7 linked regions of the Homo sapiens genome follow. The protein of the gene in region 7 purifies or fractionates together with the protein of the main gene of each other region. This does not show direct contact. Each region holds a gene or a part of one and is shown on either strand. Other genes may lie near its edges.

Region 1 (3,500 bases), on a different chromosome or scaffold from region 7:
TAATTTTAAGTCAGAATTTCATAGAGTCTCTCTGAGATTTTCCCTCTCAGATAAGCCCAGTTAGACTTCCTTCCTCATCTAGGCAGGAAGCCTACCAGCAAACTATGTCCCGTTCATCCTCTTTCTTATGTCCTAAGCATAGAACTAGTAGCTGTAACCATCATTTAGGTTCAGATATTAGATTTTTTTCTCCCTGATAATTGTACATAATCTTTTTTTATTATACACATTTTGAACTATTCATAAAGGGCTTTGCAGACAGTGTAGTTATTGCCAGCAACCTTTATAAGGCCCACCTTGGCCTCCCGACGTGCTGGGATTACAGGCGTGAGCCACTGCGCCCAGCCTAGGTCAGGGCTTTTATCCATTACCCAAATAATGTACTTTGTACCCATTAAGTACTCTCTCATCATTCACCACCTCCTTCAACTCCCTAGTGCGAATACTTTAAAGTATGTTTTTTGAAGTAGTAATGGATTTGTGCACATCTGTGACTCACAGGCTCACTTTTCCCTTTGACTAGTGGCATAGGGACTAGCTGGCACTCAGTGTTATTTGTAGTCTTGTTACAGAATTATCTTGAAGAGTCATCTGGATTATCTGAGGATCAAACTCATCGGTTCTATGTTGATTTAACCAGATTACAGAAAAAAAGATTTTTCAAGACAAAAAGACAGTTCCAGTAGGTTTAATGACTTACCTCAAAGTTAATTAATGGCAGAGCAAGAAGATGAACTGTGATTTCCTGACTCCCCATTCAGTATTTCTTCTATGCTATGCTGCATGATGGCAGAAGTAGATTCCATCTTAAACTTTTAATCTGCTTATCTAGGGACTGTAATACAGCTGAAGGTCCTTTTTAGGGGCATAAAATTTCTAAAGGTGACATTCTGGTTATATCTCAATTTGGGAAATTCCATTTTGTCTCAGGTTCACCTTTGGGGCTTCTCCTCTTTTTTGATTAGTACACGGTCATAATGCATGGTATTTTCTTTGAGATATTCCAGCAAAACAAGACAAAAAATCTAGAATAATACATGAAACAAGACTGGGAAATGTTGAGAGTTGTTGAAGCTGAGTAATAGGTACATGGTTCATAATAATGTATTCAATCATTTTGCAAATTTTAGAAGTCCCTTTGTTGGACCTGAGAGGTATTTTAACTATGGATGTATTATTCCTTTGTTTATATTTGTGTCTCTGGGTTAAAGAAAAAAGTAAAACCAGCAGGTTAATATTTATGTTATCCTTACCGTCACTCCCACTGAGTCTAGGCTTAAATTCAAAAACAGTTTTCTCTTAGGCCATAGAGGGATCTGCCTTTTAATTCTGACCAAGCTGTTTTCCTTGCAACAGTAGCCAGAAGATTCAACCTTTAGCATAACATTTTCAAGGTGTTTGTTATGAATGTTAGGCTTTTCTAGGCCAAAAAAAGAGGAGTGCTTTTTACTTTATAAGAACAACAAAAGGACTTCAGTATTCTTTTAGACCTAACAATTTTAGCCAAAAATTTTGGAAGATGAGTCAGCATAATGTCTTCAGACAGTTCTTCAATTTGACTTCCTTCACTGCCACCACCTATGACCTTGGACAGATAACTGTATTTCCCTAACCTTCAATTAACTCCCTGTCTTCCTAAACTTCAGTGCCTCCATCCACAACATAGAAATTCTAATACATTGTGAGGTTGCTGTAAGTATTAAATTGGCAGAAAATGTAAGTCACCATTCACAGTGTTAAAATAAATTATAAATAAATAAACATTAGTTCCTTTCCCACCCATAACAGTAGAAGCTCTTAAAGATGGGGTTCTTGTTTCCTTTACTAACCTGTTTCCTTTTTTTTTAATGTACTTTTTTTCCTTACTTGATCTTTCTCCCTATTTCTTTTCACTTAGGGTCTGCATGCTGGGTAACCGCACCCTTTCATCAAGACACATTGACGTTTGCTCTAAGACCAAGGAAATTAACAACATGACAGTCCCATCAAAGTTATGGGGATTCTTCTGTAACTCGAGTCAATTTTTCAATGCCACCTGTGATGAATACTTTGTTCACAATAACGTCACTTCAATCCAGGGCATTCCTGGATTGGCTAGTGGTATAATTACAGGTAAGTTAGGGAGTTATTGGACAAGTTTTTTCCTATTTTCTGGGGAAAATAGGCCTTGTCATCTTAGATTCCTCTACTGTCCATAAAGATTCACTGCCATGGTGCTAATTCCCTTCTTAAGCACACCACACAGCTCTTAATTCACCATATTTCTGCTTTTCCATTAGTAAAGCTGTCCTTATTCAGTACTCCTTTACAGAGTGATGTCTGCTAAAATTCACCTCCATTTCAGAGCAGAGTTGAGCAAATCACTTTCTAACCTTACGGTAAAATATTCCGTGTATTCTTGTAAAATTGCCAATGTTCTTCCTGCACTGACAGAATAGACCTGTTTTAATGTCCACATCCACATGTATCTTCCTAACTTAGCTAAATTCCTGAAACATTCCTTAAGTGTCTTCTATTATAAATGTTTGGTCTATAAATTTCTTTGCACATAAGTAAGTTTACATTAAGGTGTTAGAAACAGCACTGATGACAAATAATAATGGGATTTGTGGGGCATTTAGTTTTAGTCTGTTTAACTTTTACTAATTTGCATTAGTAAAGTTAAACTATATTTGCATGTACCAAATCATTTTGTCAAATTATATTTAAATTAGATAAGAAAGAACATTATGTTTAGCTGGGCGCCGTGGGTTATGCCTGTAATCCTAGCACTTTGGGAGGCCTAGGTGGGAGGATCATGAGGTCAGGAGATCGAGACCATCCTGGCTAACATGGTGAAACCTCGTCTCTACTAAAAATATAAAAAATTAGCTGGGCGTGGTGGCAGGCGCCTGTAGTCCCAGCTACTCAGGATGCTGAGGCAGGAGAATGGCGTGAACCTGGGAGGCAGAGCTTGCAGTGAGCCAAGATTGTGCCACTGCACTCCAGCCTGGTGACAGAGTAAAACTCTGTCTCAAAAAACAAACAAACAAAAAAAAAACTATGTTTTTATTTATGTGTGTTTTATTGTGCAATGTGTGTGTATACATGTGCTCATGTAGAAGCAAACACACCTTTAGAAACTGTATAAATGAGGAGCCTGATTTTGAATGTTTGGGTAGAAAATTAATTATCTTTTTTTTTTCATACTGCTGCTGCTTAAATTCCCATTTTTCCCACTGCAGAGAATCTTTGGAGTAATTACCTACCCAAGGGAGAGATCATCGAAAAGCCTTCAGCCAAATCTTCTGATGTCTTAGGCAGCTTAAACCATGAATATGTTCTTGTTGACATCACCACCTCCTTCACGCTTCTGGTGGGAATCTTCTTTCCCTCTGTTACAGGTAAACACATAGGCTGTTGTATATTTTAGAAGCTGTCAGACCCACGGAGTGATTTTTCTCAGGAGGCAGAATTCTCAGGGTTCCTAGATTTGCTTCTACTCTTTGCTATCAGTATCA
Region 2 (3,500 bases), on a different chromosome or scaffold from region 7:
CCCATACCAAGCATTGGGGCCAATTGTCTGATTTGTGTTCTATATCAACTTAAAACAATTTCGTATTTGGCTTTTGAGGGTAAAACATACACATAGATGTACCCCACACGTGAAGTTGTTGCATTAAAAGAGGACTTCTGAAGTCAGCAATCTCTAAACAGCGCTTATGTTAGAATTTCAGGCAGGAATGGGTAGGCAGGAAGTCCTTTTGATGAAGTAACAGCATTGTCTAATAACCCTTTCAAATTAAATCCCAGTATGCTAAGTTATCATTGATTCCATTATTTGTACAGGAAGCCCTTTAATATTGTTTAGCCATGACAGCAAATATAAAACTAAATACCCATTACTTATCAGTTATCCATGGCCTTTCTTCTCATGATTCTTCAGACTTTTGAACCAAGGAATAAACTGGTTCTACATTTTATTACATTTTTGTTTGGTTGGTTTCTGTGTGTGTGTGTGTGTGTGTGTGTGTGCGCGTGCGTGTGTGTGTGTGTGTTTGGTTTTTTGTTTCTGTTTTTGAGACAGGGTCTCACTCTGTTGCCAAGGCTAAAGTGCAGTGTTGTGATCTCGGCTCACTGCAACCTCCGCCTCCTGGGTTCAAGCGATTCTCATGCCTCAGCCTCCCAAGTAGCTGGAATTTACAGGTGTGCACCACCAGCCCCACCCAGCTAATTTTTGTATTTTTAGTAGAGACAGGGTTTCACCATGTTGGCCAGGCTGGTCTTGAACTCCTGACTTTGAGTGATCCACCCACCTTGGCCTCCCAAAGTGCTGGGATTACAGGAATGAGCCACCATGCCTGGCTGTTTCTACATTTTAAATGTATAATGTCTCACTATTAGCTATAACTACTGAGGTATAGATTTGTCTTTATTTATGGTAACAGTGTCACCTACTGGATTAGGCACATCGTATGCAACTCCCTTCCCAAACACAGGTGTTGTCAGGCGACTGTAGACATCTTCTGCATTCAGGTCTTCATTTTTACTATTAAAAAGCAGTGCAGCAGCATCACTCCCCAGAAGGTAAGTAAATGTCTTGCCTACCATGGTAAAACTAAATACAGGTCCATACTAAAAAGAGAAAAGTACATATAGTGATGTTACAAAAAATATGCAACACTACGACAGTAACTTTTTAAAATCACAAAATAATGCATTATTAAAAAAATAAAAACATATATAAACCTTAAAGCAATTCTTTTCATCTTGCCATACTCCTCCTTCCTTTGTCCAAATTTATAATTATGTTCATTTAGTTGCAAATGTAGTATAAATATAACTGTTTATTATGCTTTTTTCAGTTTATATTGACAATGTTTTCTATTGTCTATATAAACATCACAATGTTAATTTACTGACTACTCTTTCATTATTGGACATATGGGTGATATGTCAGGGTTTTCTTTAGTTATTACAGCTAATTCTGTGATGAACACCTCTGAAAATATAGACTTCTTCCCCCTTTGGTTAAAAACAAATTTTACAAGACTAGCCAAAGAATTTGACCTTTTCTATAGTACCTGCTATGTGAAGACACTACAAGTTTATTTATCTATTTTAGCACTATCTCACCTACACTAAATGACTTCATTTTTTATTTTATATTAATTTGGTTAGATGTTAAATACTTTCCCTTGCAGTTTTCTGGTTATGATTGAAGACTAGACTCTGGGGGTATAATCATGAAAAAAAATACTGTCCCAACTCACCAAGCTTAGTCTATTGGAAAAAATACAAATTAATCAAATAATCACATTAACAAACATAAAACTGCAAATGTGACAAGTATTACAGAAAGGAAAGCAACTCTGTGATGAGAGAATCTAAAAAAGGGAGACCTAATAGAGGAAAAGACAACTAGGTTGAGACCAGAAGAATGAGGAGCTGGTTTGGTAGCTAAACATACACAAAGGCCCTAAAAGTAAGAGAAAGAGAAAGGAGGAGATGAGAGTTGAGCATTAGGCAGTGCTAGACCATACAGAGCCTCATAAGCCATTTTGAGGAAGTTTTTAAACGGGTGACAAGAATTTTTCAGAGAAAAAGGAAAGATGCCATTGAAAAAGAAGTCAACAATACACTGAGAAAACAAATAAAAGTAAAAAGTTCCTGAGACAAAAGAGGGATGGAGAGTTCAGCCTCCGATAAGAGGCAAAATATAGTTGTAATAAAATCAAAGTGGTAGAACGCAGTGAGCCAGACTGTCCGTGTTCAAATCCCAGCTCCTCCACCTACTTGCTGTATGACTTTGGTCCTATAGTCAGAGAACTTAGTCTCTCTGTGTTTCGTTTCTCTCACCTATAAAATGGTAATAATAATAATAGCAGTTCTTCACAGAGCTGCTGCCAAATTTTATATACAGGGCAGAGAAGAGTACCTTGGCTTACTTAGCATCTTAATGACTTGTTTTCCATTATTGTTATCATTAATAAAAGTATAGGCTCAGAAATCAGACCATGTGTAAATCCTGGCTTGGCCACTGTCTAGCAGTGAGTCCAAGAAGAAATTATATATCCTCTCTGCTTCTCAGTTTTGTCATCTATAAAACAAATATACCTGAAAGGGTTTTTGTGGAGCTTCAGTGAGATGATCTTTGTAAAGCACTAAGTACTGGCATAAAGTAAGTGTTTGATAATTATTACTGTGATAGGAAGAAAGAGAATAGGATTACTATATAAATACAAGTAGGTTTGCATATTTGAAATTGAGAAAATGAGGAAGTTTTCTTTGAATGTTTTAATAATTGTCTCCTAAATCAACGTTTTTAATCATTGTCTCCTAAACAGGAGAAAAAATCATCTGCTTTGATGGAGAGGTAGAAAGATTCAGAAGTTTAGAAAAGTGAAGGTTTGAATTAGTCACTGTAATGAGTGGAAAAGTAGGCCCAATCACAAGAACATAATAGGACTGTGGAGCAGTGTTCAAATATCATTAAGGTAGGCAATCATAAAATCAGGAAGAAACTAATCTGGTGCAGAAGGAGACAATAACTGGCTGCCTCCAAGGGTGACTTCTGCCAGCTGAACACAATGAAAAGATGCGGGGTCGAGGAAATTTAAAGTACAGTATTGCCAAGAGTGTAACAGAAACGACATGCCATGGACCCAAAGCGGAAAGAGGAAAGTGAAGAATGAAGGCTGATGGATCAGGAGAAAGTAAATGGAATGCAAGATCCAATGAGGTCAAAGAATAGTTATAATTTAAGGAGTTGCACAAGCAAACCAGGAGACGGTATGGTCTACGAATAGGATATCTAAATTAATATTGTGGAAGTGAAACAGTTAAGAGTGACAAGTCCAAAGCGAGACTGTGAAGTAAATGGCTTAACTGGCACAGGGAAGCTCATTAGAGAGAAGACGGGCAAATAATTGAGTAGCTATGGTGTCATGTGGGTCATTCAAGTGGACAGTGAAATCACAGAAGATGTATAGAGCAGGTTAGAAAACCCCACAGATGCATGGTAAAGAAAAATGAGGGTTAATTAATATCAATTTT
Region 3 (3,500 bases), on a different chromosome or scaffold from region 7:
CGGCTCCCTTTGAGTATCTGCACCACCAATTCCTGCAGATGGAGGCTGGAGGAAAGTCTTTCCTGTGAGGAGATTACGTGTGCAGCCAGGGATGCGGGGAAAGGCCCAGAGCATCAGGAAAGGTGGCGGTGGGGTGCAGGGGGGCAGGGCAAGCAGTCCGGGAAGGCTCCCAGGACCCCATGCTGGAGGACCTGAAGGCTGGGCTGAGGAGCTGACATTTTATTCTTTCTTCATTCCTTTTTTTGTAATCTTATTTTTTTAGAGACAGGGTCTTGCTCTGTTGCCCAGGCTAGAGTTCAGTAGTGCAATAATAGCTTACTGCGGCCTCAACTCCTGGACTTAAGGCATCTTCCTGCCTCAGCCTCCCAAGTAGCTGGGACTGCAGACACATGGCACCACACCCAGCTAATTTTTAAATTTTTTATGGAGATAGAGTCTTGCTATGTTGCCCAGGCTGGTCTCGAATTGCTGGGCTCAAGTGATCCTCCTGCCTTGCCCTCCCAAAGTGCTGGGATTACAGGCGTGAGCCACCATGCCCGGCCTCTCTTCATTCCTTATCAATACAGCAGCCACTAATTTGTTGCATGGACTAGGAGTTGGCTGCACTTTAACTTTGCACTATTTGTGAAGAAAGCACTTGCTAAGCAAATTGCTAGACAGGATCGTAAACTGAATGTTTAAAATTTGAAAAACTTCTTCAGAAACTCTAAGTATTTTAGAAATATTTACTAATATGTAAATACTCAATACCAGAATCATTTTTCTGTATTTCCTTGAAGCAACTCCTCAAAGTTGCCTGCTAGGCAACACCTGGAAACAGTAATTCCACTTAATGTATAACTTTAAAGAGAAAAAAAAAGTCTCCTCATTCTCATACAAACATTGCATGACTCATGCTTTCCCCTATTTTAAGAGGCCTTTTTAGTGAATGCTGTTGCAGTCCGTGGGGATTGATGTATGAATTTGCCTTTCAAGCAGGGATGCTTAAATTGCAGTTTTCTTCCTCACAGCTCTTATTGAGACCAGAAATTGTCCTACTGTTTAATTTCATGATTGATATACCTATGGGCTGTCTCTCTCACTAAAATGTAAGCACATCCAGGCCCTGTTACCAGCACCTAGAACAGTGCCTGGCAGGTGGTAGGTGGGGATTTACATGGTTCTGGAATCCCCTGGAATTGTATGTATAATTTTGCGTGTATGGTGAGGGGGTATTGCATGGTGGCCATGAGCATTGACCTTGGAGCCAGGTTGCCTGTATTCACCTCCTGGCTCAGACACTCACTAGCTGTGTGATCTTGGGCACAAGCCACTTACCTCTGTCGGCCTCAGTTTACTCATCTGTAAAATGGGGACAAAACCTCACAGGTTATGATGAGGATTAAATAAATAAATATATGTAACAATACCTGGTCAATAGTGAGTATGTATTTTGCTGGGTTTTTTTTTTTTTTTTTTTTTTTTTTGAGACGGAGTCTCACTCTGTTGCCCAGGCTGGAGTGCAGTGGGGCAATCTTGCTCACTGCAACCTCTGCCTCCCAGGTTCAAGTGATTCTCGTGCCCCAGCCTCCCAAGTAGCTGGATTACAGGTGTGTGCCACCACACCTGGCTAATTTTTGTATTTTTAGTAGAGACAGCGTTTCACCACATTGGCCAGGCTGGTCGCAAACTCCTGACCTCAAGTGATCCACCCGGCTCAGCCTCCCGAAGTGCTGGGATTACAGGCATGAGCCACCGCACCTGGCCTTGCTGGTTGTTAATATGTGTGTAGATATTTTCTGGTCTGAGGGTCCTTTGCTTTCATTAGACCCTCTGAAAGGTCTGTGACCTTAAAAAAGGCTACCTGAATAGGATTTCAGTGATGGCTCAAGGTAGATACTGACCTAGCACAAACAATAAATCTGTTCCTTTGGGTCTTTAGAGGGGATAGTGATGTGTTCATTTTTCCCCAGGAGAAGTGCCAGCTGATTCCAAGCCAAGTGGGTATAAACTTGTCAGTTCCAGGCAGTTAGCTTCATACTACTAAAAAAGGCTAGCGGGGTGCAGTGACTCACGCCTACAATCCCAGCACTTTGGGAGGGTGAGACAGGAGGAGTGCTTGAGGCCAGAAGTTCGAAATCAGCCTGGGCAACATAGCGAGACCCCGTCTCTACAAAAAATAAAAATCAGCCTGGTGGCATGTGCCTGTAGCCCCAGCTACTCAGGAGGCTGAGGTGGGAGGATTGATTGAGCCCAGAAGGTTGAGGCTACAGTGAGCCATGATTGTGCCACTGTACAGCAGCCTGGGTGACAGAGTGAGACCCTGTCTCTAAACAAAACAAAACAAAACAAAAGCCCTCTTTGTATTAAATTTCAAAATTTCCCCCTTTTGGAGGATAAAAGACAAAGAGAAGAGAGGTCTCCGCTGGCACAGAAACCAGCAGCGAGATCACTCTGCCATCCTTTCCCTTGGATCCGTGGGCACGTCTCCTGCTTGGGGTGTTTTCTTTTCCAACGGTGTCTTTTGCCTCCTTCTCTCCCTGGCCACAGGGACGCGTATCCCACGTGTGAGGTGGTTGATGTGCAGCTGTGCTACAACGTGGCCAAACTGATCTACCTGTGCAAGGAGAAGTGAGTGGTGGGCGGGCCTTGCAAGATGCCCCCTCCTTCCTTGCTGGCCTCGCATCTCCCAGCTAGGAAGGGAGGCGGGAGGCCCTGGACCCCTCCTTCTCCCCTGGCGTTCGATGGTTGAACTGTGGGTATGGGGGTCCCTGCCACAGGATTCTAAATCTGAGGTTTGTGCCCCCGCTCCCACCCCTACAGAAAGAAGACTGAGAAGAGCCTGACCTATTACACAAACCTGCAGGTGAAGACAGGCCAGCGGACCCTCATCAACCCCAAGCCCTGTGGCCAGTTTTGCTGCTGTGAAGTGCTGGGCTGTGAGTGGGTAAGGGTCCCACCCCCCGGCTGGGAGCAGAGGCATTGGCATCGGGGTGCCCCAGATACCAGCATGGGGCCACGTCATCCCAATGGGATGTGTCTTGTGGCAGGAAGACGCCATCTCTTACTACACACGGATGAAGGACAGGCTGCTGGAGAGGATCACAGAGGAAGAACGCCACGTCCAGGACCAGCCCCTGGGAATGGCCTTCGTCACCTTCCAGGAGAAGTCCATGGCCACCTAGTGAGTGTAGGCACATCCAGACCCCTTCTTGGCTGACTCCCTGTTCCCCTCCAGATAACTCACTGTCCCTCTCGAGTGGAGATGGTACTGCTGACCCACCATCCCTGGGATTTATCTGTGGTGTTTCCTTCTCCTCCCTCAGCTACCCACACTCACTTTCAGCCAGCCCAGCCCATGTTTGTGTAACAGGCGGTGGGGGTGTGGGCAGCAGCCACGGAGTGGGTGATTCTGGCTGACCCCCTCGAGCTGATGTGGCCTGGCCCCACTGCTGGGCTCTTCCCTGCTGCCCTGGACCCATCCTGTTGGCTTCATGTGCCAGCCTTGCCCCAGGGGAGAT
Region 4 (3,500 bases), on a different chromosome or scaffold from region 7:
TATCATTGAACTTTGTAACTAAAAAGCATTGTAAAAATGTTATTCTGAATTGCTCTTATAGTATATACTGCTAAGCAACTTCTCTGTTAGGCTTGCTTGACACTCCAAAACAAATAAGGTACCCCTACTATGTGCACAGCACCCATACTTCTCCAATTATCTCCCAAACATGCTGTCTTCAATGTAACTGCTGCTCATTTGTCTGTATGCTCCACTAAACTGTAAATAAACTGTAAATCCTATGAGGGCTCCCCGTCTTTTTTTTTTTTTTTTTTGAGACAGGGTCTCCCTCTGTCGCCTAGGCTGGACTACAGTGGTGCAGTCACAGCTCACTACAGCCTGAACCTCCCAGGTTCAAGTGATCCTCCCACCTTAGCCTCCCAAGTAGCTGGGACTACAGGTACACACCACCAAACCCAGCTAATTTTTTTAAAAAATTTTTTTGTAGAGACAGGGTCTTGCCATGTTGCCCATGCTGGTCTCCAACTCCTGGGCTCAAGTGATCCTCCCACCTCAGTCTCCAAAACAAAATGCTGGGATTACAGGTGTGAGCCACCATGCCCAGCCTCCCATGTTGTCTTGTTCACTGTCATATTCTGAATGACTCACTCATATTAGAAACAAGCACTCAATAAACAAACAAGTAAATCTTGACAGAAGAAAAGTTCTTCCTTGCAGACTTTTGCTAATGAAAGTCCTGATAAAGAAGATACTAAATAGCAACCTCTGAGTGCTAAATACTGACTGGTAAGAACAGAAAGAGAAAATTAAATACTAGAATATAACCACATTTATAATTACATAATTGGAAAAGAATAACCATGCTATCAACTAAGGGAATATGACTCACCATCATATTTTGCTAGGACTGCCTGAACATCTGGATAGGCCTGTAATTCTAAAAGTGATTCTAAGAGATTTTCATGGATGTTCAACATGGTAAGAGGAGGAAATTCTTTCATCAACTGTATATTAAAAGGAAAAGAAAGATTAAAATCATAACAAAGGAACTCAATAGAGCTGAGCCAGATTCATTAAGTAGAAATTCTTGTTTCTTACCATAGCTGTGAAGAAGACCTAACCCTTAAGAAAGGTACGTATATTAAATAAATACCTTGTTCTAAAAACTACCAATTAAAATACAATGATTCTGCATTAAAATAACTGGCAACTTAACTAAATTTTTAGTTTCTGGAGGAATAAATGTAATAGTCCCATCATCAATTTACTTACATCTCTCATTATTTTTACTGCTTCTCTTATTCTTCCTAATTTTCTTGCACACATTGCCAATCTTCTTTTAATATATACCAGTACATTGGTATCTCTCCCTATTTAGAAAAACAAAAAAATGATACAACTATCACTTTTGTATTGTGGGCTGCTATTTCATTAACATATCCATTAATTTTATTTGCTTCCCTTGGAAGAGTCAATTAAAATTAAATTGTGTCAGAATGGAAGAATATTAATGATGTCTACATTTGGATGATAAATATTGAACAGGAGTGTTCTCTATTTTTGCGCATGTTTCAAGTTTTCTGTATTAAAACTTAAAATACACATTTAATTATTTTTGCCTCTAATAGTAACTTAAGTACAGTATATATAATTCGTGTATGATTGACAAGTTTATTTTACCATTAGCAAAAAAGAAATACATACATTATAGTAAGATATAACATTAACCTAGTATTTAAGTTTGTGCATAAATGATCTACTATTCTGATACTCTCTATTGTTTTAAATGAAAAACAAAAAATGTCCAAAACAAAATTTCCATGGCTAATGTAAACTTTTCTTAACAGTGAGTAGTTGACAAACTATAAAACTACTTCTAGAAAGAGCTAACAAATATTTCTGTAACTAGCTCATAACCGTATTTGAGATTATTCAAAGACAAATGGCATGACATTTTTAAAGATGTAGTTTCATTAGTTCCAGGCTACAAAATTATATATTCCCACAGATTTGTGTTATAAAAACTGTGCATTAATGAAACATACCATATATATCTGTATTTAGCTTAGGGAGAAAAACATTATCCAAATTTTAATTTACACATAAAAAAAGATTTAGAACTTAGCTGCCAGTAGATAATGCATTATATAAACATATTTCAATTTATTACCCACTATTTGCCAAAATCATGAAACTAAAACCCTCTGGCCATAAAAATAGCAGGAAGCAGCATCATTGCTGATTCTAACATCTTTGGTAAAAAAAAATCTCAATCATAACTGGTAGAGCATATCTAAGAACAGAAAGGACTTCTGTTGCTATGGCTCATCTGATCTCAAGCACATCATGGAGAAAAATCAACCAAAGAAAGAATCAATGCCAAGTATGAGGTTGGATTTTGGGCTAAGAATCAGATGGTGTGAAAGGGGCCACTCCCTAGCACTATATGCAGATACACAGTCTGAAGAACCAACCAAATAATGTACCTCTACTGTTGCTTAGAGTAAGGGTGAGGATAAAGATAACAGCTGCTTATCATCACTAGAAGGCTCTCCTGAATGCTGAAAGTTTTTGAGTTATGTTTTTACAATGACCAGCCCAATTCTCACATGAAATAAATTACTGTTAAGTCTCAGAGCAGCACATCTTCTCTCAATAACCTGAGCAGATCTATTCCCTTCCACAAGCATTCTCTGGCTAATACACATTTCTGTCTTGCTGGCTTGTAGGTATTGTGAATAGATTAGTTATTTCCAGTGAAAATTAACTAACCTGTAAGTATTAAGTTTTTTATTATTGTTGTTTGTGTTAAGACACAAGCAAATTACAGATGCTAAAAGACAGTAATAACCAGTTCAAACTTGCTTACTCAGTTGAGCTTCATGCTGAGGACTTTGGTGCTGGCACTGCTGTGACTGCCTATAAATTGTTTCTCCTGCCTTGAGTGCCTGTTTAAATAACCTTTCAGCATCTACAATAGTTGTTGCTTCTTCCTCAGCCAGTAGAACATATGCAGTGGCACAGCTATGAAGAAAGCAAGAAGGCAATTTTAAATAAAATGGTAAAGCAAGTGTTTTCTCTTGGTTATGTCCCTTTGCTCTATGTCATATTTCCTTACCTACACTTTTTCCATCTTTAGAAAAAAAAAAACCTTCGTTCAATATTTTACCTTAATAGGGGCACATTGGTATATTCTTTATGTCTGATTCCACAATTCTTCCACTTTCTTATCTTTCCCTTCTCTTTGTTTTTTAAAAAAAAAAAACAAAATTTTTAAACTTCTATCTCATTCTCTGACCCATTGTCCTGTGTTTTCTTTTTGTGAAAGGGGGGAGAAAAGAAGATTTATAAAGAATTATCTGAATTGTATACCCTCTACTGGTCATACCTGCTTTTTTTTTTGAGATGGAATTTTGCTTTTGTCACCCAGGCTGGAGTGCAATGGCCCAATCTTGGCTCACTGAAACCTGGGCCTCCTGGGTTCAAGCAATTCTCCTGCCTCAGCCTCCCGAGTAGCTGGGATTACAGGCATGCAGCAC
Region 5 (3,500 bases), on a different chromosome or scaffold from region 7:
GTTCTTTGGTATGAATAATATTAGTGTACACCCAAGTTGGTTCATTAAAGGATACATGACAAATTATCAGTGTTATTGCTAAAAGTATATACCCAACTATGGTTGTGATTAGGCCTTCAAAATGAGATGCTTGGACCTGGAAATAAGAAAAAAGTAAATAAAATTTAATTTTACAACATGTTCTACACCCCGGTTTTCCCATATTAAACAATCTAAATGACTAAAAGAGAATTGTTGAGACAATTTATAACCAGGAAACAACTGTAAAATCTGCTTTGGATGACATCTCTGAAAACCAAATTCTCTCACTGACTGTTATATATTACTAAAAAATGAAGAAAAATTAAATAACACTTTACCCAAGGAGACAAAATAACAGTAGAGTGAATTAAATTTTACAAAAACAAGAGCACTGTAATACAACAGCCTGCCCTCTACTCTCACTCTAAAGCAGATTTGCTAAAGGCTAACCACTGAAAGCAGGAACACACTGCCCAAGTCACCCACCAGCTGGGTAATATCCTAGCCACCTCATTTCCTACCACTAGAAGTAACTGTTCAAGTTTCCCTTGCTCTGCAAATCTGTCCCATTCTCAACTTATAGAAAGAATTTTGAAAGTAACAGTGCCTGTCGGTATTTTTTGATTCCTGAGTTTCAGATAGCAAGTGGCAAAAGTTTGGAAAGTCAAAATTTTTCAAAACACTTACCTGAACCTTTCAAGTTCTTGCATTCAACTAGTGAGAATCAGAGGTGTACTAAATATGAGAAGACTTCAGAACGTGATCTCTCAGATCTCAAATATACAAACTGAGCATATGATCCCAGATAGTCAGCTTTTCCATAAAAGACTAAATTGTTCTAGGGCCCCAACAGAGAAGTAATAATCCTTCCAAAATTTATTTACCTCTGGAAAATACTGATAAAATGTCAAAACTAAAGCACTCTAGAAAACACTACAACCCGTCATTCCAAAATATTCTACCCTTTTTAAATTGATTGATATATTGTTACTTTTCTAAATTCAGCAGGGGGCACCTGGGGAAAGGGAAAGAAGAGAACATACAGGTTCTTGAGATGGACAGAAAATCAGCCTGTGGGAAACTTTCCCACGGTATGCCTCAGGCCCACCCAGCTGACTGGATTTCAGAGCACATTTTCATTAGTTGGCAACATGACCACTATCTCTTGAGCCACTGTTATTTTTTTTAAAAAAGAATGAGACGGTATTGCCTAACTATTCCCTTGCATAATGCCAATGAAGAAATGATGTAACTCTTTAGAATACTATTTTATTAATAATCACATTTGGGAGTAATGAATGAAAGTAACTTTGTAAAAGTATTATACTCACGTGTTCTTCAAATCCCAAACCAACAAGGGAGAAATGACCAATATGGTAAGGGCAAAATGCTAAAAAGGGGGAAAAAATTCCATGAAAACTCCGACATCAAAACAATGAACACTCCTACTACAATTCCCCACTAAAAGGAACTAGGGCTTCTTGGAGAAATGAAAGATTCCAGAACTAGGCTAAAAATACACTGCCTAGGACATTCTCTGTAACTAGAGAACAACAAAGCTATTAAGGTCTAATAGGGCCATGCCAAATCAACACAGAAACCATTGTGAAAACAGGCCAAAGAGAGGATAATATGAGCATCAAAAAGAATAATGACCAAAACTGATGGAAAAACACTGAACATACACAAATCCATGAGTTTATGATGCTCAAAAAAGGAAAAGTCCAAAATAATAATCACGAAAAGAGAAAAAGCAACATCAAAGAAAACACTTTGATGTTTTGGAAGCAGTTAGCACACCCATGTGAATAGTTAATACACCAATTCCTTATTCTGAAAACCAAAATTAATGGGAAAAATATGAGCATCTGTCCTACTTGCCCCGGACAGACAGGTTTGGGTTGACTGAATAGTCCCAAATTGATAAGAATTTCTTCTTCTTTCAGAAAAGTCAGCCAATAAATATAAAAAATGACTGTTTAAAATATCACTCCCAACAGATTATTTTATAATGGTAAAGGGAAAAACAAAACCTAAGATTAGAGGCCCAGGTTGATATCAGCTGAATCCAGTGATAAAAGTGGATAATCCAACATCATGTATCTCAGCTCCTCACATATACTATTAATAGGCACAGTGTGACCAGTGATGGATTTGTCCCAGATGTATTCAACCTGAATCTAATAAGGCCCTTAGATCTGACTTCCAGTTTAAGAGAAATATGGGAGACAAAGGATAAAGGCAGAGGACATCCAGGAAGCAGATGGACAGATGTAAAACATGACATGCTGCAAGAACAGTTAACCTAATCCCAGCAACAAATCAATGGCCAAATAGGGTGAGTTGGGGGAAGCAAAGAGAAGAGTACTCTAGATTAAAAGACTAATAACTTATAACTTAACAACTAAAAGTAATATGTGGACCTTATTTGGGTCTTCATTCAAAGAAACCAACTGCAAAATGGTATGTAAGGGACAACCCAGAGAGTTTGAATATGATGGATTATTAGGAAATACCAAATTCTAGTAATTTTGTAAGGTGAGATAATGGCATTATAGCTAAGTATGAAAGTATTTTTAAAACCTTTATAGCAAGAGAATTTTTATAGTCTTCTTTTTCCTCAAGTCTTTCTGGCTAAATTTTACTTCATTCCTAATAATAAAATATAGTTATCTTTTCTTTATGGTAGAAATAAATCGACAGCGCAGTAGATTACCAGGGGAGTGGGAAACTCAATCATGAAGACAGAAGTCAGAGTGAACCTACTAGGGATCTGGCCTCTAACCCTTTCTGACTATTTCATGGGTAAGAATATTTTTGAACATGTATTTCCAATATATTTAAATTTATTTATAAATTATATATACGTATTAGTTTACTAACATATTGTGTGTAATATAAAGCAGAAGAAATTTAATAAGGTAAGGAAAAAAACTGTATGTTGAATTTTGCCTATTTTGCTCTCATATCCCAGTCTGAAGATGACTCAACTAGGCCCCTGGGAGGGGCAAGTTTTAACTCTATTAGCAGATGTATTAAATAATTATTAACCTTAAATACCAGTTGCAACAATCAATTTCCATCCCATTACACACAAACTAATGGAAAGGCATCCTGAAATTAAGGACAATTTCTCAGGATTGTCACCTTCTAGTGGAAGACCACAGCTTTGTCAAATTATATTTCTGCAAAGCATATGACCACAAGAGCCAAAAAACTGCCTGTAGAAAACTTCCAACAGAGCAACCCATGCAAGAAAAAAACAGGAGGGTGTTTAATCCCAATGATTAAAAGAAAAAGTATGTTCCTAATGGAAGAAAACTTGTTTCATTTCAAAAGATTCCAAAAGATTCTAACTATATAATAAAACATAAGTTTACTAAGAAAATTCTTTTCGCAATATAAGCTCAGGAGGTTGGATTAGAAAAAGCTTTACTTAGATTTGATTTCTATAAATCAGAGTTCTTATTTGTATAATT
Region 6 (3,500 bases), on a different chromosome or scaffold from region 7:
GATTTCATTTGGTTAGAGTTTTGAACTCAATATAACTGGCTTAGGTTCGACGATGGGTCAGAGTAGGAAGTCAAGTAAATAGTAGGACTTCTGGGTTTGAGTTACCTGCCTGGCCCCAGCCACTCCTGCTTATTCTCATTTCTCTTCCCCATACCATAGTCCTCTCTCCAGTTATTTGCACAGGGATCGCCTGAGTGTTATGAGCACTACAACTCCCAGAGTGCCATGCTCCTGCCTCTGAAGCAGGGAAGGCTGGGAAAGCTATGCCCTACGGCAAGCTTTTCCACTGGCAAAGGAGGGGGGAGTGGGTGGGGGCCTCTTAGCCTGCCTGGGCAGCCAGGGTGCTGCCTGGTTGCCTGCAACTGGCCGGCTGCATTGATGCTCAGAGTGGATGGGGTGGGCAGGAGGAGAAAAGGGACAGCCAGCCTGAGTGCCTGGGTTCTCAAAGTGCTTGGGGACAGAGCAGAGTGGGGCCCTGGGGAGGATCCCAGGATAGCGGAGAAGTGTGGCCTCAACAGATGCAGCACTGCCCCACCCATTTTACTGGGGGGTCCCTGGGGGACCCTTCTGCTGACAACACTGAAGCTCTGCCTCGGGGGCGGGCTGTGGAGCAGGGGAGGAGGTCCTCAGGGAAGAAAAAGGAAAACCAAAGAGAACAACAAAACTAGAAACAGTGACTGCAACTTCGGGAGCAGCATCCCTTAGCCCCCAGGGGGACTCAGAGGGTTTCTCCTGCCTCTTCCTAACACTTCAACCACAGGGCAAGAGGCAGAAGCCCTCAGATGGAGGGGAGGATGGAGTTGTTTATGTGTTTCACTTGGTCCCAGGGAGTCTCTGCAAAGCCTGGATTAGGAAGACTAAAGGAGTGTGTGCTGGTGTGTTATGCCTCTTCCTTTTCCAGTCCAAGCTGCCTTTAAAAACACACTAATTTAGTAATTGTATTGGGTACCATTTGTCCAGTGCCCTCAGTTTCAAGAATAATATATTACATGATTTCATTTAATCCTCGACGATCCTGAATTGAGTGTCACTGACATTTTAGGGTGGGGGCACAGGGCCTCAGAGGTTAAGTAACTTTCCCAAGGTCACACTGCTAATAAAATGAGGGACCTAGGACTCAAACCTAGCTCACCTTCTTTCTAAAGCTAGAATGATTTTCAGGGCACCACGGTGCTTTTCTGATGTTCCTAGAACAGGACTCGGCAGACCATGGAAGCTTTATAAATGCTCATTAAATGTTCTCAGGCCAGAGAACCTGTGGGTGCTGTGGAAATGTGTGTGTCCAGGTATGTAAATGTGTGTTGATGTGTGGACCTGTGTCCAGGAGGAGCTAGGTGACTGCATGGCAGTCCACGGAAATGAAGGGAGTTGTTGGCTTCGAAGTGGGGGTGTGAACATGGGTGTGTCTGGGAGCCCGGGTATGTAAACATAAGATGCACAGAACCCTGGGGCACTATGGGAGGTTAAAGGTAGGTATAGGTATCTTGGGTTGGGGGGACTCTAACTAGTCCCCCTTTCTCAATTCTCAACTCCAATGTACTCCAGCAATCTCAACACTCTATTCCCACCCCTTGCCTGTTTCTCTCTCTGAATTCCAAGGCTCCATCAGATCAGAATGAAATGAGAACAAGCCCCAGAGTACCATTCCTATCAACTCCTGTCTTCTCCACACCAAAGAAAGGTAGAGCATTTTGGAAGCTTCTACATGAAGTGGCCCCAGCAGGGTGGACAGGATCTAGCTAGATGGTTAGTAACTGAAATCACCATGCTCCTCTGCTGTCCGCCTCCTTGGGGTCACAAAGTACTCTCCCCTCCACAACAGCATTAATCTTCCCACCTGCATGGGAGGAAGGCAGGGCACACTCAGATCACTATCCCCATTTTACAGGGAGGAAGCAGGAACCCAGTAGGGGAAGCAACTTGCACAGTGACAGGACAGGTAAGGGGTGGAGCCTGGGCTGGCAGCTCTGCCAGTTGACAGGGCTGCTCCAAGCTTTTAATTGTGGGGGTGGGGTTGCTGGGTTGAGTTTCATCAAGGGCAGCTGCTCTCAAAGCCAGCACTGGGCTGAGCAACTGAGAAGAGGGAAGACATTGAGGCAGAATACCTTGGGGATGGGAGGTGGCAGTTCTTCCACTCCACGAGGTGCCTGCACCAGCTATATCCCAGTTTCTCTAGTCTGATATTGAGGTTTTGGTTGAGGTGTGTCCAGAGAGTGATGGAGCATTTTACTTCTAGCTAACTTTTTAATTTTACCATTAAGGAGTGTGTGCATGGTGGGGGTTGGAGAGCTATAACTTATAAGCTTTTTTTTGGGGGGGTTGTTGTGTATTTTTTTGAGACGGAGTCTCGCTCTGTCACCAGAGTGGAGTGCAGTGGCGCGATCTTGGCTCACTGCAACCTCTGCCTCCTGGGTTCAAGGGATTCTCCTGCCTCAGCCTCCTGAGTAGCTGGGACTACAGACACATGCCACCACGCCCAGCTAATTTTTGTATTTTCAGTAGAGACAGGGTTTCACCATGTTGGCCAGGATGGTCTCGATCTCTTGACCTCATGATCTGCCCACCTCGGCCTCCCAAAGTGCTGGGATTACAGGAGTGATATAAGCTTTTTCAGTGGAGTTACTGGGCAAGATTTAAGTTAGGGCTTTGGATCAAAGCAAGGCCATGTGGTCTGAGGGGAGGAGGGGAAGATGGAAGCGAGCTCTGTTACTACGAAACCTGAGTCTCAGTCTTCCAATCTGTAACAAAGAGATACAAATATCCTTACTCTACCCCTACCCACTTCAGAGAGAAAGGCAAGAATATATCCACAAGTGAGCATAAAAGTAGTAGTAGGTGCCAGGCACGGTGGCTCACACCTGTAATCCCAGCATTTTGGGAGGCCGAGCTGGGCAGATCACAGGGTCAGGAGTTCGAGACCAGCCTGGCCAACACAGTGAAACCCCGTCTCTACTAAAAAAATACAAAAATTAGCTGGGTGTGGTGGCATGCGTCTGTAGTCCCAGCTACTCGGGAGGCTGAGGCAGGAGAATCACTTGAACCCAGGAGGCAGAGGTTGCAGTGACCTTAGATCATGCCACTGCACTCCAGCCTGGGCGACAGAGTGAGACTCCATCTCAAAAAAAAAAGTAGTAGTAGGCAGGGTGGGGTGGCTCACCCCTGTAATCTCAGCACTTTTGAAGGCCAAGTGGGGAAGATACCTTGAGCCTAGGAGTTGGAGGCTGCAGTCAGCCATGATCATGCCACTGCACTCCAGCCTGGGCAAGAGAGCAAAACCTTGTCTCGAGGGGAAAAAAAAAAAAAAGCCAGGCATGGTGGCTCACACCTGTAATCCCAGCACTTTGGGAGGCTGTGGTGGGAGAATCACGTCAGCCCAGGAGTTCGAGACCAGCTTGGGCAACATAGCAAAACCCCGTCTCTACAAAAGATACCCCCCACCACCAAAATTTAGCTGGGCATGCTGGTGCATGTCTGTAGTCCCAGCTACTCCGGAAGCTGAG
Region 7 (3,367 bases):
TCACAGAAGGGGCAACGTTTAAATAGGGCCTTAAAGGAGGAGGGGGAGTTTGTTGGGTGAAGAAGAAGTGAGTGTGTTGAGGAATGCAGCCCTGCCTTAGTTTTGGGGATGAAGAAACAGAAGGAAGGAGGAAAAGGGGTTGGTGGGAAGCACTTAGGTTTGTACTAAGGGGAGACCAAGTGGTGAGAACACGGACTCTGACGTCACATGGAACTAGGTTTGGATCCCAGTTTTGCTCCTAACTAGCTCGGTGGCCTTGGGCATATAATTTAACACCTTTAAGCTTCAGTGTCCTTAGTTGTGGAGTGGGGATATGAAGGCATGTTTGTTTGAACCGAGATGGGGACAGAGTAAGTGTAAGGATTACACCACACAGAGCGAGGCACCCAGAGGTGCCCTTTTGTGACAGTGGGATAGTTACCCAGGTCCTCTGATAAACATGGGATGACCCTTGGAAGCCCCTGAGGTTAAAAAGAAAAAGTCATTGCAACAAGACCAGCTCAAAATTTAAGCCACATGGTTTATTTCCTTCTGTGGTGTGGATGAGACAAGCCATCTCATCTACCAGGCCTGGTGAACACCAGGCTGACAGTGTCTCCTTGTCCCCTGGAGACGAAGCCCAGGTCCTGTGGTAACCTTCTGTGGTAGCCTTGTCCTTGGGCTATGGGGGTGGGGAAGGGAGTGCTGAGAGGCACAGGGAGGTCCCAAACTGCCACTGCTGTGCCCCTGTCGATGCTGACTGTGGTGGTGCCTCAGGAGTGGGCTGGCGGCAGCTCTCCCCTGCAACCTCCCCTCCATTGGGAGATGGTAGGGGGTGGGGGGCGGGGCCAATGCTGACTTCATATTACAGACAAGGAAAATGAGGGTTTCCAGGAAGCAGGGGGACAATGCCTGGCCTAGACCCAGGACTTCAGGGAGCCTGGGGAGCTGGAAGGGCCTGATGAACCTTATCTGGTTCAACACTCTAGTTTCCAAATAGGAAACCTGAGTTCCATGGATGTGGCAACAGATGACAAAGGACAGAGCTGATCTTGGGGCCAGGAGACCTGCGGCCAGGCCACTACCCTGCTGTGAGGCCTTGGCCTGGTATCGGCACCTCTGTGGAATGCCAGAGTCAGACTCTTCCATTCTGGAGGATTCCGGGCTCTCTGACCTTCCCGAGGCCCGAGGGTCAGGGCAGGCCTCGAACCTGAGTCTCCAATGAGGCCAGGATTTCCCCAATGAGCAGAGAAATGCTTAGATGCACAAGGTGGGTGTCCTGGAAGGGTGACAGGGCTCAGGGAGCTGAAGGACACACACCCCTGACGTCAGCCCGGTGTCTTTTAGAAAGAAAGCACTGGGGAAAGTGTGGGAGAGATGTCCCTGGGGACACTTCACTCAGATGCCGGAGTATGTGTAGATGTGGTGAGGGAGGGCAGCTGGGATGGGGCTGGCCCCTGATGAACAAGGTGGGGGTGGGGAGAGGCTGGGCCCAGAGGGAAAAGGCTGGACTCCACCCGCAGGTGCCACATCTGCTACTCAGACGACTCCTTGGGCATATGCCACATTGTCATAGGCAGGGGGCGCAGAGGCTGCCGGGCTGGGGATGTTGAAGTCTGCGCTGAAGGCGTTTGGCAGGAAGATCACAGGCTGCAAAGAAAACAGCACTGAGCGTCCTGGAGGACGCTGGAGCTTCAGGGTAGTGGTTCAATAGTGCCCCCTTGTGGGTAATCTGAGAACAGCGCCCTGGTACTGAATTCCGCAAGTCTGAATCGCATGCTCAGGGCTCTCCGTGCAACCAATATTTCAAACAACATTTACTGGGGCCAGCTATGATCCAGGCATTGGGAGTACAGCAGTGAACAAAACAGACAAAAGTCCCATTTCTCCAGGCGCTAACGTTCTGCTGTTCTTTTTTTTCTTTTCTTTTTTTTTTTGAGACAGAGTTTTGCTCTTGTTGCCCAGGCTGGAGTGCAATGGCGTGATCTCGGCTCACTGCAACCTCCGCCTCTTGGGTTCAAGCTATTCTCCTGCCTCAGCCTCCCGAGTAGCTGGGATTATAGGCGCCTGCCACCATGCCCAGGTAATTTTTTGTATTTTTAGTAGAGACGGGGTTTCATCATGTTGGCCAGGCTGGTCTTGAACTCCTGACCTCAGATGATCTGCCCGCCTCGGCCTCCCAAAGTGCCGGGGTTACAGGCATGAGCCACCACGTCCGGCTCTGCTGTTCTTTCTCTCCCGACTGCCCTGGCCTGGTTCAGGACTTCGCTCTCTCTTGCCTGCACCGTGGCACCAGCCTCCTTGCAGCTTCCTGGCCTCGAGCCCCGCTTGTCCACCCTCTCCACCTTCCGGCACTGGACAAATCCTCTTGACTGATTTCCCTCAACCAGCTCACTCCCCTGCTCAGACCTTCAATCCCCTCACCCTCAATGCATCCCATCGTGCACCTGCCAAGGGCACCCCACCCTGTGGCCTGCATTTGCCTGCCCGAGGCAGCCTTTGCTCCAACTGGTTCCCCTGCCTTGAACACTCCCTCCAGCCCCTTTCTGTCATCACTGTCCTCCATTTTTTTTGGAAATCAAAGCTTAATTTCCATCTCTATCATGCTGCCCTCCCTGATGCCCCTGTCTCCCATGTGGCCTGGGAACTCCAAAAAGTCTCACTCCTCTGGGTGCAGCACTGCCCCCATGCCCTGAGCCTGGGCCTTCTATTCTGCAAGGCTGCCTGTGGGGCTGCACAGAGCAGTGGCCCTGTGGGTGCTGGTGCACCCAGTGCCACGGGGAGAGCAGTCCTGTCTTCACTGACCTGCGAAGACGTCTTTGGTTTTGTTTTGGTTTTAGAGACAGCCTTCCTCTGTCACCCAGGCTGAAGGGCAGTGGTGTGATCATAGCTCACTGCAGCCTCAACCTCCTGGGCTCAAGCGATCCTCCTGCCTCAGCCTCCCAACTAGCTAGGAGTACAGGCACGTACCATCACACATGGCTAATTAAAAATACATTTTTTTTTGTAGCGATAGGATCTTTTTATGTTGCCCAGGCTTGTCTCAAACTCCAGGGCTCAAGAGATCCTCCCATCTCATTTTTCAAAGTGCTGGGGTTATGGGTGTGAGTCACCATGCCCAGCCCAAAGACTTCTTTGGGCCCCCTGACATGGATGGGACACCCTTCCTAGCGCTGTCTCTTCTTATTGCTTCCCAGAGTGCAGAGGGAGGGGTCTGGAGGCAGAGCGCGCTCCCAGCCAACTGCCTTCCACACAGGCTCAGCTCAGGTTTAGTGGACGTGGGGGTGGGGGTGGGGGTACTCACTGCACTGGCCTGGGCATGGATGGCTTGGCACCCGAAGTGCATGGCAATGACCGCTGTGAAGAACTCCAGGACAGTGAAGATAGT

Evidence for each region.
Region 1: the proteins of MS4A15 (region 7) and SLC12A6 purify together in Homo sapiens (affinity purification with mass spectrometry; one large-scale study listed by BioGRID and IntAct). This does not show direct contact.
Region 2: the proteins of MS4A15 (region 7) and CYP51A1 purify together in Homo sapiens (affinity purification with mass spectrometry; one large-scale study listed by BioGRID and IntAct). This does not show direct contact.
Region 3: the proteins of MS4A15 (region 7) and TMEM63A purify together in Homo sapiens (affinity purification with mass spectrometry; one large-scale study listed by BioGRID and IntAct). This does not show direct contact.
Region 4: the proteins of MS4A15 (region 7) and ST7L purify together in Homo sapiens (affinity purification with mass spectrometry; one large-scale study listed by BioGRID and IntAct). This does not show direct contact.
Region 5: the proteins of MS4A15 (region 7) and MARCHF6 purify together in Homo sapiens (affinity purification with mass spectrometry; one large-scale study listed by BioGRID and IntAct). This does not show direct contact.
Region 6: the proteins of MS4A15 (region 7) and TMEM63B purify together in Homo sapiens (affinity purification with mass spectrometry; one large-scale study listed by BioGRID and IntAct). This does not show direct contact.

Annotation. Positions count from the first base shown.
Region 1 is NC_000015.10:34,250,782-34,254,281, reverse strand, and holds part of SLC12A6 (solute carrier family 12 member 6), read left to right. Parts: intron 1-1,897; coding exon 1,898-2,112; intron 2,113-3,224; coding exon 3,225-3,383; intron 3,384-3,500.
Region 2 is NC_000007.14:92,127,978-92,131,477, forward strand, and holds part of CYP51A1 (lanosterol 14-alpha demethylase), read right to left. Parts: intron 1,080-3,500; coding exon 903-1,079; intron 1-902. UniProt on the Homo sapiens protein: Sterol 14alpha-demethylase that plays a critical role in the cholesterol biosynthesis pathway, being cholesterol the major sterol component in mammalian membranes as well as a precursor for bile acid and steroid hormone synthesis.
Region 3 is NC_000001.11:225,861,881-225,865,380, reverse strand, and holds part of TMEM63A (mechanosensitive cation channel TMEM63A), read left to right. Parts: intron 1-2,529; coding exon 2,530-2,610; intron 2,611-2,802; coding exon 2,803-2,926; intron 2,927-3,029; coding exon 3,030-3,163; intron 3,164-3,500. UniProt on the Homo sapiens protein: Mechanosensitive cation channel with low conductance and high activation threshold. In contrast to TMEM63B, does not show phospholipid scramblase activity. Acts as a regulator of lysosomal morphology by mediating lysosomal mechanosensitivity.
Region 4 is NC_000001.11:112,581,142-112,584,641, forward strand, and holds part of ST7L (suppressor of tumorigenicity 7 protein-like), read right to left. Parts: intron 2,986-3,500; coding exon 2,831-2,985; intron 1,332-2,830; coding exon 1,234-1,331; intron 966-1,233; coding exon 851-965; intron 1-850.
Region 5 is NC_000005.10:10,398,695-10,402,194, reverse strand, and holds part of MARCHF6 (E3 ubiquitin-protein ligase MARCHF6), read right to left. Parts: intron 1,412-3,500; coding exon 1,353-1,411; intron 1,283-1,352; exon of another isoform or gene 709-1,282; intron 137-708; coding exon 56-136; intron 1-55. UniProt on the Homo sapiens protein: Endoplasmic reticulum membrane-associated E3 ubiquitin ligase that plays a critical role in mitigating endoplasmic reticulum stress, the regulation of cholesterol and lipid homeostasis, and ferroptosis.
Region 6 is NC_000006.12:44,130,554-44,134,053, reverse strand, and holds part of TMEM63B (mechanosensitive cation channel TMEM63B), read right to left. Parts: intron 1,838-3,500; exon of another isoform or gene 1,768-1,837; coding exon of another isoform or gene 1,765-1,767; intron 1-1,764. UniProt on the Homo sapiens protein: Mechanosensitive cation channel with low conductance and high activation threshold. Osmosensitive cation channel preferentially activated by hypotonic stress.
Region 7 is NC_000011.10:60,773,867-60,777,233, reverse strand, and holds the end of MS4A15 (membrane-spanning 4-domains subfamily A member 15), read right to left. Parts: coding exon 3,284-3,367; intron 1,630-3,283; coding exon 1,519-1,629; 3' UTR 501-1,518; downstream 1-500. UniProt on the Homo sapiens protein: May be involved in signal transduction as a component of a multimeric receptor complex.